Linked DNA regions of Homo sapiens: region 1 is linked to region 2. A link means that fine-mapping ties the variant in region 2 to the expression of a gene that starts in the linked region. Tissue or cell type: cartilage. Region 2 holds a variant in brackets; the other region holds the start of a gene. All regions are shown on one strand. Distances are between the middles of the regions.

Region 1 (8,086 bases), 37 kb after region 2:
TCTGATTTTTAAAACTGATAAGCAAAAATGCACCTGAGGACTAGCAGTTTATGAATCCTCCCTATGGCAGAAAGTACCTACTTGTTTTGTTTTCTTTTTTTGAGACAGGGTCACACTCTGTCTCCCAGGCTGGAGTAGAGTGGTGCAATCTCAGTTCACTGTAACCTCTGCCTCCTGGGTTCAAGTGATTCTCGTGCCTCAGCCTCCCAAGTAGCTGGGATTACAGGCGTGCACCACCAGCCCAGCTAATTTTTGCATTTTTAGTAGAGATGGGGTTTTACCATGTTGGCCGGGCTGGTCTCAAACTCCTGGCCTCAAGTGATCCACCCTCCTCGGCCTCCCAAAGTGCTGGGATTAAAAGCGTGAGCCACCACCCCTGGCCGGCCTAATTGTTATTTCTTATACCCTTTTATGTGTGTTCCAGCCCTCCTACTGTCCACTCCACCCCCATCCCACTTGCTCATAGGGATCTAACTCACTTTGGGCGCTTTCCACAGCTCTTCACATGTAGCAGGCCAACAATATTGTTGAATGAAATATGAAACTCGACACATATCTCACTAGGGACCATTTCCCCCAGTCCTAGAGCAGTGGTTAAAAGTGGCCTCTGGTGTCTAAGTTAGAATCCTGGCTGGACAACTTGCATGCTGCATGAACTTAGGCAAGTTACTAGCTTTTGAGAGCCTCAGCTTCTTCAGCTGGGAACGATTGTACCTGCCTTACAGAGTTGTTAGATGGATTAGCTGAAATAATACACGTGAAGAATTTAGCACAGAGCTTAGCACACAATAGCAACCCAACAAATGATTTACTGTCACTCACATCGTCCCCTTTCTCTCCTCACTGGCTTCCTGCCTCATCACCCTTTAGTGCTTTATCTTCCATCTTCTGCCACTGTCTACCTGGCTGGCAGCTCGAGTGAGCCACCAAAACGCAAACGTGTCATTGTCACTGAACGATTTAAACTCTTCAATAGTTTGCTGTTGTCCTTAGTAGGAGAAAATCCAAACTCCTTATCACAGTTCACCAAGCTCTTTTGGAGCAAAATCTGCCCAGCCTCCAAGCCTCATCTTCACCTCTCTTCACACCCAGCACTCCAGCCACACTGAAGCTGAAGCTCTCCTTTCCTGAATGCTCCACCTCCACACTTACGCCACTTCAACAAAGCCTTTGCAAGTGCCATTGCCTCCAGCTGGAACCTCTAATCCCCACTCCTACCACCCCTTCTAGATGTTCTGGCTATGTGCTAACAGAGAATTCTTGATGTTTCTTGCTAAACCTGAGGGTATGCACAATATCGATTTTCCTCACCTGTCCTCTCTTTCAAGAACAAGGCCAGCAAAGAATAGGCAAATGATAAAATGTGCGGAATTGTCCACAGCAGTGCTGACCATGAGCAGACGGCGCCACCTGTTGACCAAAATCTGCACTTCAGTACCTGGAAAGGAACTTTCTTTCTTTCTACCCTAAAGACTAGTAATGGCTTTGAAGTTTTCCAGTACATCCGGTATCTTCACCTCCCACCAAACTTAGCAATGAAAAAAGCTAATGTTATTGGATACTCAATGTATGCTAGGCACTCTCCTAAGTGCTTTGGTTATTAACACGTTTAATTTTTGCAACTACCTAATGAGGTGGGTAACCTTACTGCCATTTTATGATGGGGTAATTGAGGCACAGAGCAGTTAAAAAGCCTTACTCAAGATCACACTGCTAGAAAATTTCAGTAGAAACTCAAAGTTAAGCAGTCTGGCTTGAACCTGCACTCACAAGCCCCAAACTCACTGCCTCTATTCTGTCTCCTTTACTCCAATGACCTAGTTACATCCCAGACACTTCTACCAGGAAGGCCCACTTTGAAGGTACTGCTGTCACAGTGGCACTGGTGTCAACCACAGTCCCATCTGGAGACAGCAAACGCAGCAGTCAGGTCTGGCCTCCATGGTATTGTTCTGCTTGTGTGACCTCCAGCAAGCTTGCTCCAGCAAGCAACTTACTTCTTAAATCCTCAGCTTGCTCATCTGTAAAACAGGATTAGTCAGGGGGCTAACCCTATTTTACAGATGCGGAAGCTAAAGCACACAAAAGTGACAGGTGCAGGGCCACACAAAAAGCAGCAGACAGCAGGCAAACCTAAGCTGTCTTACTTTTTTTTGAGATGGAGTCTCACTCTGTTGCCCAGGCTGGAGGACAGTGGCACAATCTCAGCTCATGCAACCTCCGCCTCCTGGGTTCAAGCGATTCTCCTGCCTCAGCCTCCTGAGTAGCTGGGATTACAGGCACCCGCCACTACACCCAGCTAATTTTTGTATTTTTAGTAGAGACGGGGTTTTGCCATGTTGGCCAGGCTGGTCTTGAACTCCTGACCTCAAGTGATCCACCCACCTCAGCCTCCCAAAGTGCTGAGATTACAGGCATGAGCCACCTTGCCCGGCCTGTCTTACTCTTAAACACTCATTAATCTCCCTCTGCTGGTAGGGGCTGTGTCTGTTTTCTTTACTCTCAAATGCCAAGCACACTGCTTTGCACATAGTAGGTGTCAACAAACTTGTTTATATATATATATATATATATATATATATATATACACATACATACACACACAGTCACATTCCAGTGTGACAAATACTCCTTCACCAGGAGACAGCGCTACCACTCCGGGATCTTGAAGACTCTCTACAGAGAGCCTAGGCCTGGCAGTCTTCACAGATGACACCCAACAGGGAGCACGTTTATTAAAGTGGGAAGGGGTGGGGTACACCCCAGGGTGTATACTGACAGGGACCTCATGCAGGCCCAGAGCTCTGCTGCACCCTCTTCATCAGCTCTTCATCCTGCATAGACAACTCTGTCAACTTTTTGCCCATCCGCTCATGGATGTCCAGGTACTTAGAGACACATCGGTCCAGGCACACAGACTCGCCCTTGGAGAGCTCTGCTTCCTTGTAGTGAGGAGGCACACACTTCCGGTGGCAGGCACTGGTCATTCTGGAGGGAGGGAGGGGCAAGGTCATGTCAGCAGCATCCTGTGACATCCCAGGAACCTTGACCATTCCAGCCCTGCTATATTGATTTCACCTCCCCCAAGAAAGCAGTGTAAATCCTCAGTTTACACCTCAACCACTGGAAGGTCCTTGCAAGTAGGAAACTTGTCTAAGTCCATGTATATGACTAACTAAGTAGAAACCATTTGTTGAGGACTGGCTACATGCCAGGCATCCTGCTAAGTGCTTTACCTGCATTCTGTTATGCAATGCTTACAATAACCCTAAGAGACATGTATCCCCATTTTACAGATGAGGAAATTAAGGCAAACAGAGGCTCAGTAATTTTCTAAGGATCACACAGAGCTGGGTTATGAAGCCAGGTCATCTGACCTCACAGTCTACACTTAAAAATCCTTCTAATTTATAGCCTTCAGGATAAACCAACCAATCAAGAGAGCTTAAGCCAATAAAAATAGCAGACATTTCACTAAGTGTTGGGCTTGAGGCTAAGGGCTTTCATATATTTTTAGATTTAATATTTATGATGTCCTATGAGGTAGGTATCATTATGTCTTCTTCATAATGAGGAAACCAATTGTCAAACAGTGCAAGTAACATGTCCAATTATACTGCTGGTGATTGGTGGAGCCAGGATTTGTTCCCAAATTTGCCAAATGGTTATGAGCACTAGTTGCAGAATCAGACTGAGGTGCTAGTTCTGGCATTGTTACTGACCAGCTGCCGACCCTAAGGAAGTTACTTAACCTCTAGAATCATCAATTTCCTCATTTTAAGACGGGACTAATAAAATTAACCCACTGGATTATTTTGAAGATTAACAAGTGCCTGACACAGAATAAAGGGTTTTAAAATGTTAACTACTAAATGGGCTGGCTATGTGCTATTTGTCAAGAGGCAAATACTCAGCTTTTCTTGGAACCTAACCAGAGCCTGGATTGGAGTTTCTCTTCCTGCTTGGCTCCTGCATTGCCAGTTCCATCCCCATCTAAATGCCCAACTCATTCTAGTGACCCTTTACTGCATCTACATTAGGATCAACCTTGAAGGTGGGTGTGGGGAGGGTAAGCATGGGCCTCAGGCTCCCCTACATTCAGGAAGGAATTTGTCATAAGTCATTCACCTTCGATAAGGGTGACCAAGACTTATTTTCCAAGACAGGGTAGCACATAGTTCTCTTTACCTGTTGTACATATCGGCCATCATCTCCACCTCCAGCTCCGCAGCCAGCTGTTGGGCCCTGAGAGGATCCATCTCAGCCTAGCACCGTGGAAGGGATCTCCTTCTGGCCTCCTAATCCTGGGAGCAGACATCACCATCAGCACCCACCGCCGCCGTTCACTCTCCTACCCCTGGGGCTAGAGGATACAGAGGACTCACAGGGCGCCAGACCACCACGGGCCACTAACCTCAGTGAGCTTAACCACCCCATTTCACGGATGTGGAAACTGAGGCCTAGCCCAAGGTCGCACAGGACGTCTATGGCGAGCCTGGAAATCGAGCCCCGGATCTCTGATGCCCCAGTTCCTGGAGGTCACCTCTATTCAGGAGATCGAGGACCGGAGGAGAACTCTCTAACCCACGAACCTGAACCTCCAGGGCCCTGGGAATGGGATCATACGCTGAACAGAGGCGACCGGGACCCAGCCCAAAGGCTACACCTCTGAAATGGCGACGCCATCATCAGGGCCACATTGAATTCAGAGGTCATGTGTCACTTACCACTGCCTGGGACGGATCACAATGCCCACGGAGACCCCAACTTCTGACAAATACTATAACGTTACCCGCCTCCCGAGAGGCTCCAGCGGAAGCACGTGGGTTACTTCCGGGAGGAAAGTCCCGCCTCTTCTTTGATTCAAACTCGCTTCCGGAATTAAATACCAACGAGACGGCGCCGGGAACTCGGCGATCATAGAGAGGGAGCGGCTGGCGCCGGGCGAAGAGGAAGGCGACTTGCCAGTGCTAGAGAGGACACCAAAGTACCATAGAAGCTTGGGCGGGGTGCAGAGCGTCTGCAGCCCGATCAGAATTCAAGTCCTTTGGGATGTCACCGAGCGGCTTCAGTTTATTGGTTCTGTAGGAAGAGGCGTGGCGACAGACACCTGTGAACCTCACCCCCGTTCCAGACAGCCGACTCCTGTGCGCAAATCAGGCGTGGAGAAGGAAGAACGCCCCCAAACAGCGGTTCTGTTTTTGTTTCGCGTTAAAATCACCTGGAACGTTTTTAAACATCCCAGTGCCCAGGACTCACCTCATTTCAATTAAATCAGAATCTCTGGGAGTACAGTTTAAAATTCCTCAGGCAGCAATACAATTTAAAATTCCCCAGGTGATTCGTATGTACAGCCAAATTTGAGAAGCAGTGCTCCACGGGACGTTGTGCGATTACTGCTGTGTGTAGGTCACACTAAGCCCCGTCTGGGGTTGCAAAGATAAGCGAGATAGGCTTCCTGTTCGCAGAAAGACAAGACGTGTAAAATATGTTTTCTTCAACAGTTAGAGGTCCTCAGCCACAAAGAGATAATAAAAGCAATTTCGGCTGCCACCAGGGCTAATCTTGGGTGAGGGAAAGAAGGGTACTGGTGAACTTTCCAACTTTCAAGACTTAATGTGTTCTTCAAACTGCACCATTCACTCATTCCCCACTAAAAAGAAGGAAACAAGGAAACAATACTCAGTCCCTTGATTTGTCACACAATTTCCTGGTAAAATAAATTTACAAGATGTAAATTAATGACGCAAGGGCACATTGCCCATTGGAAAAGGTGGGCTAGACATTTTCTGTGTGGTCATCATAAGCTTCCCTAATTGTCCAAGACCATCCTAATTTTAAACAATTGACCTTTCTACTGCTTTGAAGACTCATCTTTGCCAAACTTGTGCCCTGATTTTTAAAGATTGGGGTATAACATTCATAAAGTGCATAAAATACACGAATGTTAAGCTTAATTAAATATATATGTATCTATATATGTACATTTGTATAACCGCCATCCAGATCAAGATATAAAATACTTCCTGCACCCCAAAAAGTTATCTTGTGTTCCTTCCCCATCAATACCCCCTCTCGAAGTTAACCACTATTCTGACCTCTATCACCATCAATTAGTTTTCCTTGTTCTTGAACTTCGTGTAAATGGAATTATACATTATTTTCTATTTTGTGCCTGACTTCTTTAGCTCAATGTACCTGTAAGATTTCCTCCATATTGTTGTGTGCATCTGTTATTCCTTCTGTTTTATTGCTGTCTAGTGTTTGATTGTATGAGTATGCCACAATTCATCTATCCATTCTCCCGTTGGTGGATGTTTGGATTGTTTCCAGTTTTTGCCTATTATGCAATAATGCTGCTATGATACTCTTGTACAGATGGACATATCTTGCCTTGGTTTTTGCCTTTGAAAATATAGTCAACATTGGCCGGGTGCAGTGGCTCACGCCTGTAATCCCAGCACTTTGGGAGGCTGAGGTGGGTGGATCACCTGAGGTCAGGAGTTCGAGACCAGCCTGGCCAACTTGGTGAAACCCCATCTCTACTAAAAATACAAAAAAGTAGCCCGGTGTGGTGACGGGTGCTTGTAATCCCAGCTACTCAAGAGGCTAAGCAGGAGGCTAAGGCAGGAGAAACACTTGAACCCGGGAGGCAGAGGTTGCAGTGAGCCAAGATCGCACCATTGCACTCCAGCCTGGGCAACAAGAGTGAAACTCCGACCCCCCACTCCCCGCAAAAAAGAAACATTATGGAAAGTTAAGAAACTGCGTGGGAAAAGGAGATGGTTTCTTACAAGAGGAATCTTGCAATATCTACTGGGCCTTATGAAAGGTTGCATACTGTATGATTTCATTTAAGTAACATTCTCAAAATCACAAAATTATAGAGATGGAGAAGAGATTTCTGATTGTCTAGTGTTAGGGTTGATGGGGAGATAGAAGTGTACCTGTAAAGGGTAGCACAAGAGAGATCTTTGTGTTGATGGATAATTCTGTATCCTGATTGTGGTGGTGGTTACAAGAATCTACACAGGTGATAAGATGTCATAGAACTGGCAGGGTGCGGTGGCTCACGCCTGTAATCCCAGCACTGTGGGAGGCCCAGGCGAGCGAATCACAAGGTAGGAGTTCGAGACCAGCCTTGTTGGTGAAACTCCGTCTCTACTAAAAATACAAAAAATTAGCTGGGGGTAGTGGCGGGCACCTGTAACCCCAGCTACTCAGGAGCCTGAGGCAGGAGAATCGTTTGAACCCGGGAGGTGGAGGTTGCAGTGAGCCGAGATCGTGCCACTGCACTCCAGCCCAGGCGACAGAGTGAGACTCCGTCTCAAAAAAAAAAAAAAAGCCAGGCGCGGTGGCTCACACCTGTAATCCCAACACTTTGGGAGGCCGAGGCGGGTGGATCACGAGGTCAGGAGATCGAGACCATCCTGGTTAACATGGTGAAACCCCGTCTCTACTAAAATAAAAAAAATCAGCCGGGTGTGGTGGCATGCGCCTATAGTCCCAGCTACTCAGGAGGGCGAGACAGGAGAATCGCTTGAACCCGGGAGGCGGGAGGCAGAAGTTGCAGTGAGCCGAGATTGTGCCACTGCACTCCAGCTTGGGCGACAGAGCAAGACTCGGTCTAAAAAAAAAAAAGAAAGAAAAAAAAAGTCATAGAACTACTACACACACACATTGTACCAATATAAATTATCTGGCTTTGATATTGAATATAGTTATGTTAGATTTAACCTTTAGTGGAAGTTGGTAAAGGGCGTACAGGACCTCTCTGTACTATTAATGCAACTTCCTGTGAAACTATAATTATTTCTAAATAAAAAGTTTTAAAAATCTCTACAAAAAAGAAAACAAATAAGATTATACAAGTATGAGTAAGAGCTGGCCATAAAGAAAGAAAGAAAAATATTTATATAAAAGATTGTGTAAGTAAAGTACCTAGTCCATGGTAGATGCTCAATAAAAATAAATCATTGTTTTCATTCTTTTTCATTTTTAAACTTTCACTGGGGCAAATTTATTTTTATTTTTACTTAGGATTTTTGAGGCAGGATCTTGCCTTGTCACCCAGGCTTGAGTGCAA
Region 2 (8,103 bases):
ACAGACTCACACTGCAGCATAGAGACTCCCACAGGCTGAGTGGAAGAAACCTCGAACAATGGTGTGCAGGACAAAGGTCACAAACTAAAACCAAAAAGAGAGAGTGAAGAGGTTAGGAGAGTGTGTGGAGGCTGGAGGAAGGAGGGGTAGGGCGAAGAGGCCAACTGGGCCTCAATTCCCACCCCCTCGCCAACCCAATCTACTAGAAACACTTCCTGGAGAACCCGGAAAATAGATCCAGATCAGAAGACCAGAACTGCGCTTCCTGGAAGGCAGGTGCTGGATGGACCATCCCTTTGGAGGAGCCTCGGGAGGCAGGGAGAGGGGAAGGATGAAGGTGGGTACCTGGAGGTGTAAGTTGTTGATGAGACAGGTGATGCCAAAACCCACAAGCAGCAGGTTGGTCAGGGTGAAGGCACTGATGGCATTGGTGAGCTTTTGGATCTTGCAGTAGCGTGGTCTGATGGATTTGGTAGCAACCCCGTCCCTGAGGAGTACGGGAAGTCACTGGCTGCTGCCTCTACGTTCCCAGGACTCCCTGGTTCTTGGCCTGGCCCCTCCCCCTTCAGATGTGCCTTCGATGTCAGGGCAGCAGAAAACACAGAAATCCATGTTTCTATGGGAAACCCATAGAAACCCACGTTCTCTAGCTCCATGTTTCTCAAAGTGTTGCTCCCCTACCCAATGACACACGCATCAAAGCGGGTGCTTTCTTAACATGCAGATTCACAGGCCTCATCTCGGCCCTCAGAATCTCAGCGGGGATATCTGCAAATCTGCATTTGGACAAATATCCCCCACTAAGTGATTCTCATGCACACTTGAAGGTTTGAGAACCAAGGATGGGAAGGAAGGTGGGAAGTGGGAAGCTCTCACACCGTCTCTCATCAGAAGTCCTCAGGAAGGTGTCCCTGCCCTAGACATAAGCAGATGCCCTCCTGGGGACAGCAGCTTGGCCTGACTGTCCAGCGCTTCCTCTCTCCGGCACAATCAAGGGCACTGAGGCCAGCCCAGGAGAGAGGTCAGTAGGCTGGGGTGAGGACAGGCGGCCCATGTGTCCTGGACAGAAGGGCCCTGCTAGGGGACCCTCACCATTAGGAGCAGAGGGTAGAGGAGGAAGGCTCAGTGCCAGGGCCAGGCTCTGCTAGCAGGGAGGGAGGCCACTGGATTTCCTTCTCTCCCAGTCTCTTTCTCCCATCCTCTTAGGATAAACAGGGACTGTTTGGATGAACACAAAAAGAGCAAAAGCAGTCACAGAATCTGGGTTCAAGACTCCATGGTGAATCCCAGCTACTCGGGAGGCTGAGGCAGGAGAATCGCTTGAACCTGGGAGGCAGAGGTTGCAGTGAGCTGAGATCGTGCCACTGCACTCCAGCCTGGGCGACAGAGCAAGACTGTCTCAATAAAAAAAAAAAAAAAAACCCTCAATGGTGGTCTCCAGCCAACAAGACAGCCCTCAAGGATCCTGCCTCCTGGTATTCCCCTGCTTTGTCCAGTCTCCTTCCACAGTATATCAGGGTTGCTCTGTGCCTATAATAGAACGTAACAGAAGTGATGGTATGCTACGTCTGAGATTATGTGAGAGAAGATACGGGGTCTCTGTCGCTTAGCCCTCTTGCTCAAGGGAAAGCAGGTGCTGTGTCCTGAGCAGCCCTATGGAGAGGCCATGGGGGTAATTGAACTGACATAGATTCTCCAACCCCAGTCAGCCCTTCAGATGACTGCAGCCCTGGCTGACAGCCTGACTATGTCTTCATGAGAGACTGTGACTCAGAATCAGCCGGCTGAGTCTCTCCCTGATTTCTGACTGTCAGAAACTGTATGAGATGAGAAGTGTTTGTTGTTTTAAAATGCCAAGCCTTGGGGTGATTTGTTATACAGCAATAAATATCTAATATACCAACTCTACCTATTCTAGCCCTAACAAGACTTTAGCGTGTACCCTTATAACACAGGTTCTGGAGGCTGCCACTGAAAGCTGTGTGATCTTGGGTGAATGACCTAACTGTGCAACCCTGTACCTCGGTTTCCTCAACTGCAAAATGAAGATATTAACGCATCTACCTCAAAGAGGTGTTGTAGGACTAAACAAGGCAAGGTGCCAAGTGCACAGTCAGCACTCTGCATTAGCTATTCTTATTATTAAGCAAGCCAGGTCCCTTCCTAGCCTCAGTTTCCTCATCTGTAAAATGGGGAGGTACCCCTGATCTCCTAGGGTTCTTGGGAGAAAGCAACAAGTTGCTGGATGTAAACGCACAGAGAAAATGAAAAGCACTGCCTGACCACTTGCTGTCACCATCCCTGTACAGGCAGGTCACCTGGCATCTCCGAGGACAGTGCCCTGAGTTGGGGCGTCCACGCAGTCCTTGATCCGCCAGTCCATGATGTAGCCAATGAGGGGGCAGGTGAGAAGGCACAACAGCTGCATGGCCCCGAAGACGGAGGAGTAGAACCCAACTGGGCAGGATGGGAAGGGCAGTGGGGTCAGGAACTGGCACTCAGTGGACACTATCACCCCTTCCAGCGGAGGCCAGAGAGCACCAAAATAGCCTTCCTCTGAACCCAGACTCTTACATCCCACAAAAGGGTTACCTGGGTGGGCCCAGGCCTAGAGGAGTCCCGCCCCCTGAGAAGCGGGTTGCAGTGGGGTGGGCGTGAGCCAGGGCCCTGCTTTCATAGCCCTACCTGTCTCTGCCACCTTTTGTTGCTGTTCATTTGTCTCTGTGGGTAGGGAAACGTATGGTGAGGGGAGCTCAGCCAGGGTGACCCGCCTGTGCCCCCAACCCCCAGGGGCCTCAGCGGTGCCTCACCATGCTCCTGGCCACCAGTCACAAGGTACTCCAGCATCTTGTTCACAGCAGCCATGTAGAAGATGATCCGCAGCTGGGTCATGCCCATGGTGAGGAGGCTCCACAGGAAAGTGGGGGAGCAGAGGCTCTTGCGTAAGGGGACAGACCCTGGGGAGACAGCAGGGGGCGCCCCTGAGCCCCAGACCTTCCACTGCCCTCTGATTGTCCCAGCTCATGCAGTTCTTGGGGGGAGTGACACTAACTATGTGACTTTGGAGAGAGACTGGTTTCTTCAAAGACGGGAAAGTTCAGATTCACTTGCCTCCAGGCTCTTGCTCAGCTCAGAACATTTTTGGATGTATGTCCTATGCTTCGTGTGGTAAAAATAACTCAGTTAGGTGCCATGGCTCACGCCTGTAATCCCAACACTTTGAAAGGCAGAGGTAGGAGGATCACTTGAGCCCAGGAGTTCAAGACCTGGTGGTCAACATAGCAAGACCCTATCTCTAAAAATATATATATATATTTATTTATTTATTTATATACAGAAATTATATATATATTTATATATATAAATATACATATATATAAAAATATATATATATGAAATAAGCCAGGCATGGTGGTGCACACCTGTATTCCCAGCTACTCAGGAGGCTGAGGCAGGAGGATTGCTTGAGCCCAGGAGTTCAAGACCAGCCTGGTGGTCAACATAGCAAGACCCTATCTCTAAAAAATATATATATATATAAAATATAATATAAATATATATATAATTTATATATAAAAAATAATATAATATATAATATAATATATAATAATATAATATATATAATTTTGTGTATATATATATATATATATATATATATATATATATATAAAAAAATAAGCCAGGCATGGTTGTGCACACCTGTATTCCCAGCTACTCAGGAGGCTGAGGCAGGAGGATCACTTGAGCCCAGGAGGTCAAGGCTGCAGTGAACTATGATTGCACTACCGCACTCCAGCCCAGGCAACAGCAATACCCTGTCTCTATTTTA[C/CAA]AAAAAAAAAAAAAAAAAAAAACCTGGCAGGGCACGGTGGCTCACACTTGTAATCCCAAAACTTTCGGAGGCTGAGGCAGGAGCATCATGAGGTCAGGAGTTCGAGACCAGCCTGGCCAACATGGTGAAACCCCGTCTCTACTAAAGATACAAAAATTAGCCGAGCATGGTGGTGCACGCCTGTAGTCCCAGCTATTTGGGAGGCTGAGGCAGGAGAATTGCTTGAACCCGGGAGGCGGAGGTTGCAGTGAGCCAAGATCATGCCACTGCACTCCAGCCTGGGCAACAGAGTAAGGCTCCATCTCGGGGCGGGGGGGAAAGAAACAAAAGAAAAAAACTCTGAAGCACTCACTATGGGCTACATACTTGACATTTATTACCCCATTTAATAAAATCTTACAACAACCCTATCCTTATCACATTTTACTGATGAGGAAACTGCAGCTCAGGAAGTTAAATGACTTGCTCAAGCTCACAGGGCTGGAAGCAGCAGGTCAGCCTAACTCCAGCTCGTGCCCTTAGCCATGTTGCCCTCTGAGAATCGGCACTGGGGGTAACCACCCTCAAACTGCACACCGTTTTGCACTTTACAAAGAGCTTCCACACCCATGGTGTCATTCAATCATCACAACTAACTTTACAGTTTGTGGGGTGCTTTTAGTGCTAGTTTAAGAGGTAAGGAAATCAAGAGCAAGGTTAGGTGATCTACACAAGTCACATAGCCTATAACTGGAGAGCAGGACTCAAACTCCTCAACTCCCGCTCCTGACTCCAAGGAGCTCCTTCCACTTATCATGGAGCTGGCGGTCCTGGGATCTTCATGTACCCTCCTGAGAAGCAGCCCAGGCAGGTGCTGCAGCTCCTCCTGTGACCAGCAGGGGGCAAAAGACAGCCAGGTGTGGAGGACCCCTGCCAGGAGGCTCACGGGCCTGGCTGCACCTGATGCAATAAGCTCAGAGGTTGCAAGGGGCCCTGAGGAAACCAGCTACCCGACAGGCCCAGAGACCTTGTCCCCATTTTGGAAGCTCCTCCCTCCCCAATCCCAGGAATCCAGCAGGGTAACCCTGAATCTGAACTTCCCAGCGTTAGCTGAGCTTTGATGTGCCCATCTGTAAATGAGGAGCATGCCCCACCTACATCATGGGGTGTTGTAAGGACTGAAGAGGGGTGCGAATAAATACTCAACCATGAGTGCTCACTGAATATGAGGACCCACCATCACTATCCCCCAAGGCCGGCACCTTGACCAGACACTCACTCTCAGGAAGGTTTTCTGAGGTGCCCCGAACATCCTGGGGTGACATGAAGGCATCCGAACCGTCCTCCAGGCTGGGGGCCTTCTGGCTGAGCCTCTGGCCCATGGTGGTCACATGGGTGTAGAAGAGGTCACCTGTCACCTTGTGGTCCAGGGCCAGCCCACTCAGCTTGATCTTCTTCCTGCAGGCAGCCAGGCCAGAGTGTAGAGGAACCAGTCACACAGAGCCCACCTTCAACGGCCTAGTGCTCGGCGGCCATCCCAGCGGTTTCCAGCACTCCTTTACCCGGCATTGACATGCTCACAAGCTCCTAATGCAGAGCTTCTGTTTCTGTTGCTCAGAGCTTGGCTCAGGGACCAGCTTAGCACAGATGCCAAGTAAATGAAGAGTGGATCAGCTGTTTTTCACTTGGGCTGTTCCCATGGAGGAGGCAGCATTAACACCTCAGACTCCAGAGTCAGACAGCCTGCGTCCAACCTAAGATTCACCCTCCTTTGAATGGCATGACCTTTGGAAAGTCACTTTGTTCCCTGTACTTTTGTTATTAATGGGGTTAATACCCAATCTACATCATACAGCTGTTTGAGGATGGTATAGGGGCTAAGTACAGTGCCTGGCATAACTGTCAGTTCTGTAATGTCACCTTATGTGCTTGGTGTGGAGTATCACCTCTTGCCTCTGCTGAACTGACAGGGGGCTGGAAAAAGTTGGCATTCAGGTGGCTCCACAAAAGATGGGGTGCTTGATTCTTTTATGTCCCTCTTTTTGGGACCACATGGCATCGAGTGCCATTGCTGAGGTGCCTCCTACTCAGATCTCCTCCAAACCCAGAAAGGATGAAAACAGTATTTGTCATTACTTTTTTTTTTTTTTTGAGACGGAGTTTTTGATCTTGTTGCCCAGGCTGGAGTGCAATGGCACGATCTCGGCTCACCGCAACCTCAGCCTCTAGGGTTCAAGTGATTCTCCTGCCTCAGCCTCCTGACTAGCTGGGATTACAGGCATGCACCACCACACCCAGCTAATTTTGTATTTTTAGTAGAGACGGTGTTTCTCCATGTTGGTCAGGCTGGTCTAGAACTCCCGACCTCAGGCGATCCACCCTCTTCGGCCTCCCAAAGTGCTGGGATTATAGGCATGACCCACTGCGCCTGGCCCATTACTTTTAATGGCAAAAACCACAATTACTTTTGCACCCACATAAATAGTTACCATGAGCTGAGCATGGTGGCTCACGCCTGCAATCCCAGCACTTTGGGAGGCTGAGCCAGGCGGATCACTTGAGGCCAGGAGTTCAAGACCAGCCTGGCCAACATGGTGAAACCCCGTCTCCACTAAAAAATACAAAAATTAGCTGGGTGTGGTGGCGCGTGCCTGTAATCCCAGCTATTCAGGAGGCAGAGGTTGCAGTTCACTGAAATCATGCCACTGCACTCCAGCCTGGGCGACAGAATGAGACTCTGTCTCAAAAATAAATAAATAAATAAATAAATATTTACCATGTTTTGACCACCTGTTATGTGCCAACTGTATTACTTAAAAACACCCATGGGAGGCTGGGCACAGTGGCTCACGCCTGTAATCGGACACTTTGGAAGGGCAAGGGGGGAGGATCCCTTAAGGCCAGGAGTTCAAAACCAGCCTAGGTAACACAGTAAGCCCTGTCTCTACAAAAAATAAAAAAATTAACTGGGCATGGTGGTGTGTGCCTGTAACCCCAGCTCCTCGGGAGGCAGAGGGAGAGGTTCGCTTGAGCCCAGCAGTTTTAGGTTGCAGTGAGCCAGGACCAAGACACTACACTCCAGCCTGAGTGACAGAGCAAGACACTGCCTCTAAACAAACAAACAAACAAAAGCGACCTGTGGGTAGGTAGGAACAGGCTCATAGTACAGATGAGAAAGCAGAGCTTGGAGGGCTCAAGCGATTTGCCAAGCAGAGGTCCAAGCCGAGGTCTCTCTGAATCCAAAGTTAATTCCGTCTATCATATCACCACAGCCCTCTCTGCCCCAGGGAGAGTCTCTGCCCACTCCAGCCACTCACGTGTAATTGACTTCCTCAGGGGCAGGAAAGGCTTCGATGGGCCAGTTGAGGGTGCAGTTCAGAAAGATAAGGCAGGCCAGGCCAGACCAGGTGAACATGATGACCACGAAGGCCACACCGGCATCGTAGATCAGCTGTGAGAGGAGGGGGCAGGCCCGTGGGGGAGACTGCCTGGCCCCAGACCCCACCAAGGTAGATCCCAGGCCTCAGAGGCCTTAAAGAAGTTCTCTTCTCCCCTTGTCCTTGTGCCCAATTTGCAGATGAGGAAACCAAGACCAGAAGTTTAGAGTCAGACTCAGAAGACCCATCATTCCTTTTTCTTTTTCACTTGAGGCCCCCTAGAGAGCTATGAAATAGTCTCCACAAAGCCTGAAGTTGCTGGCCACTGGCTCAAAATATCTCTGAAATTTCCATTATCTTAAAAAAATACATACATTTTTGCCTATGACTCCACAAACATTCATGTTCATGTTCGCACAAAAATGTCCATTTCATAGTACGTACAAAGGAAACTTAGTGCTCTAGGTTTACCGGGCCTAATCGTGTTTATCCTGCCCCTTCCTGGCACATTCCCCAGGGGAAAAGGCAAACCCAGACTGCTCATGCTCAGCCTTTTCTCACCTTTCCCAGGTCCTCCCACGTGCAACAACTGGGGGGGTTGGGGAGAGGGAGGTGCAAGTGCTCTGCCCAAGGGCTCTCAACCCCAGGGCAGGTAAGTTCTCAATTGAATGAGATTCTGTGCAAATGTGTCAGCCCTTCTTATGGAAGAAGCTGATGCACCATCTGTCCTCTTGTCCTCCCCATACCATCTGACCAGGATAATTAATGTCTGCTCTCCCCTCAGGCTCCTGCTCAAACCTTTTTCTCTGCAGTCTTGGACCTTGGTGCCTTTTCCTCCCTAGGGGCAGGACAGAGCTTCAAAGGGCCACACCCCCAAATGTGTGGAGGTAAGATCTGGCTCTTCAAACACTACTTCAG

The links. PIP is the estimated chance that this variant, and not a neighbour inherited with it, causes the effect.
Region 1: TIMM10 starts here. The variant in region 2 is fine-mapped to the expression of TIMM10 in cartilage (Steinberg 2020, PIP 0.95).

What each region holds. Positions count from the first base shown.
Region 1 is chr11:57,525,931-57,534,016 of GRCh38, forward strand. It overlaps TIMM10 (translocase of inner mitochondrial membrane 10), which reads right to left and starts at 4,824. Exons shown (of 3, transcript NM_012456.3): 1 at 4,728-4,824; 2 at 4,189-4,304; 3 at 2,534-2,988. The coding sequence starts at 4,259. The coding sequence ends at 2,787. It also overlaps the pseudogene RN7SL605P. RefSeq lists enhancers at 1-369, 4,824-5,003.
Region 2 is chr11:57,488,906-57,497,008 of GRCh38, forward strand. SLC43A1 (solute carrier family 43 member 1) reads right to left here. Exons shown (of 15, transcript NM_003627.6): 7 at 7,126-7,259; 8 at 5,088-5,266; 9 at 2,811-2,957; 10 at 2,686-2,721; 11 at 2,319-2,457; 12 at 346-487; 13 at 11-84. Among named protein-coding and RNA genes, the nearest start is that of SLC43A1, 23 kb to the right of the region's middle. RefSeq lists enhancers at 586-1,086, 4,330-5,529. The variant C/CAA (reference allele first, on the strand shown) is at 3,830.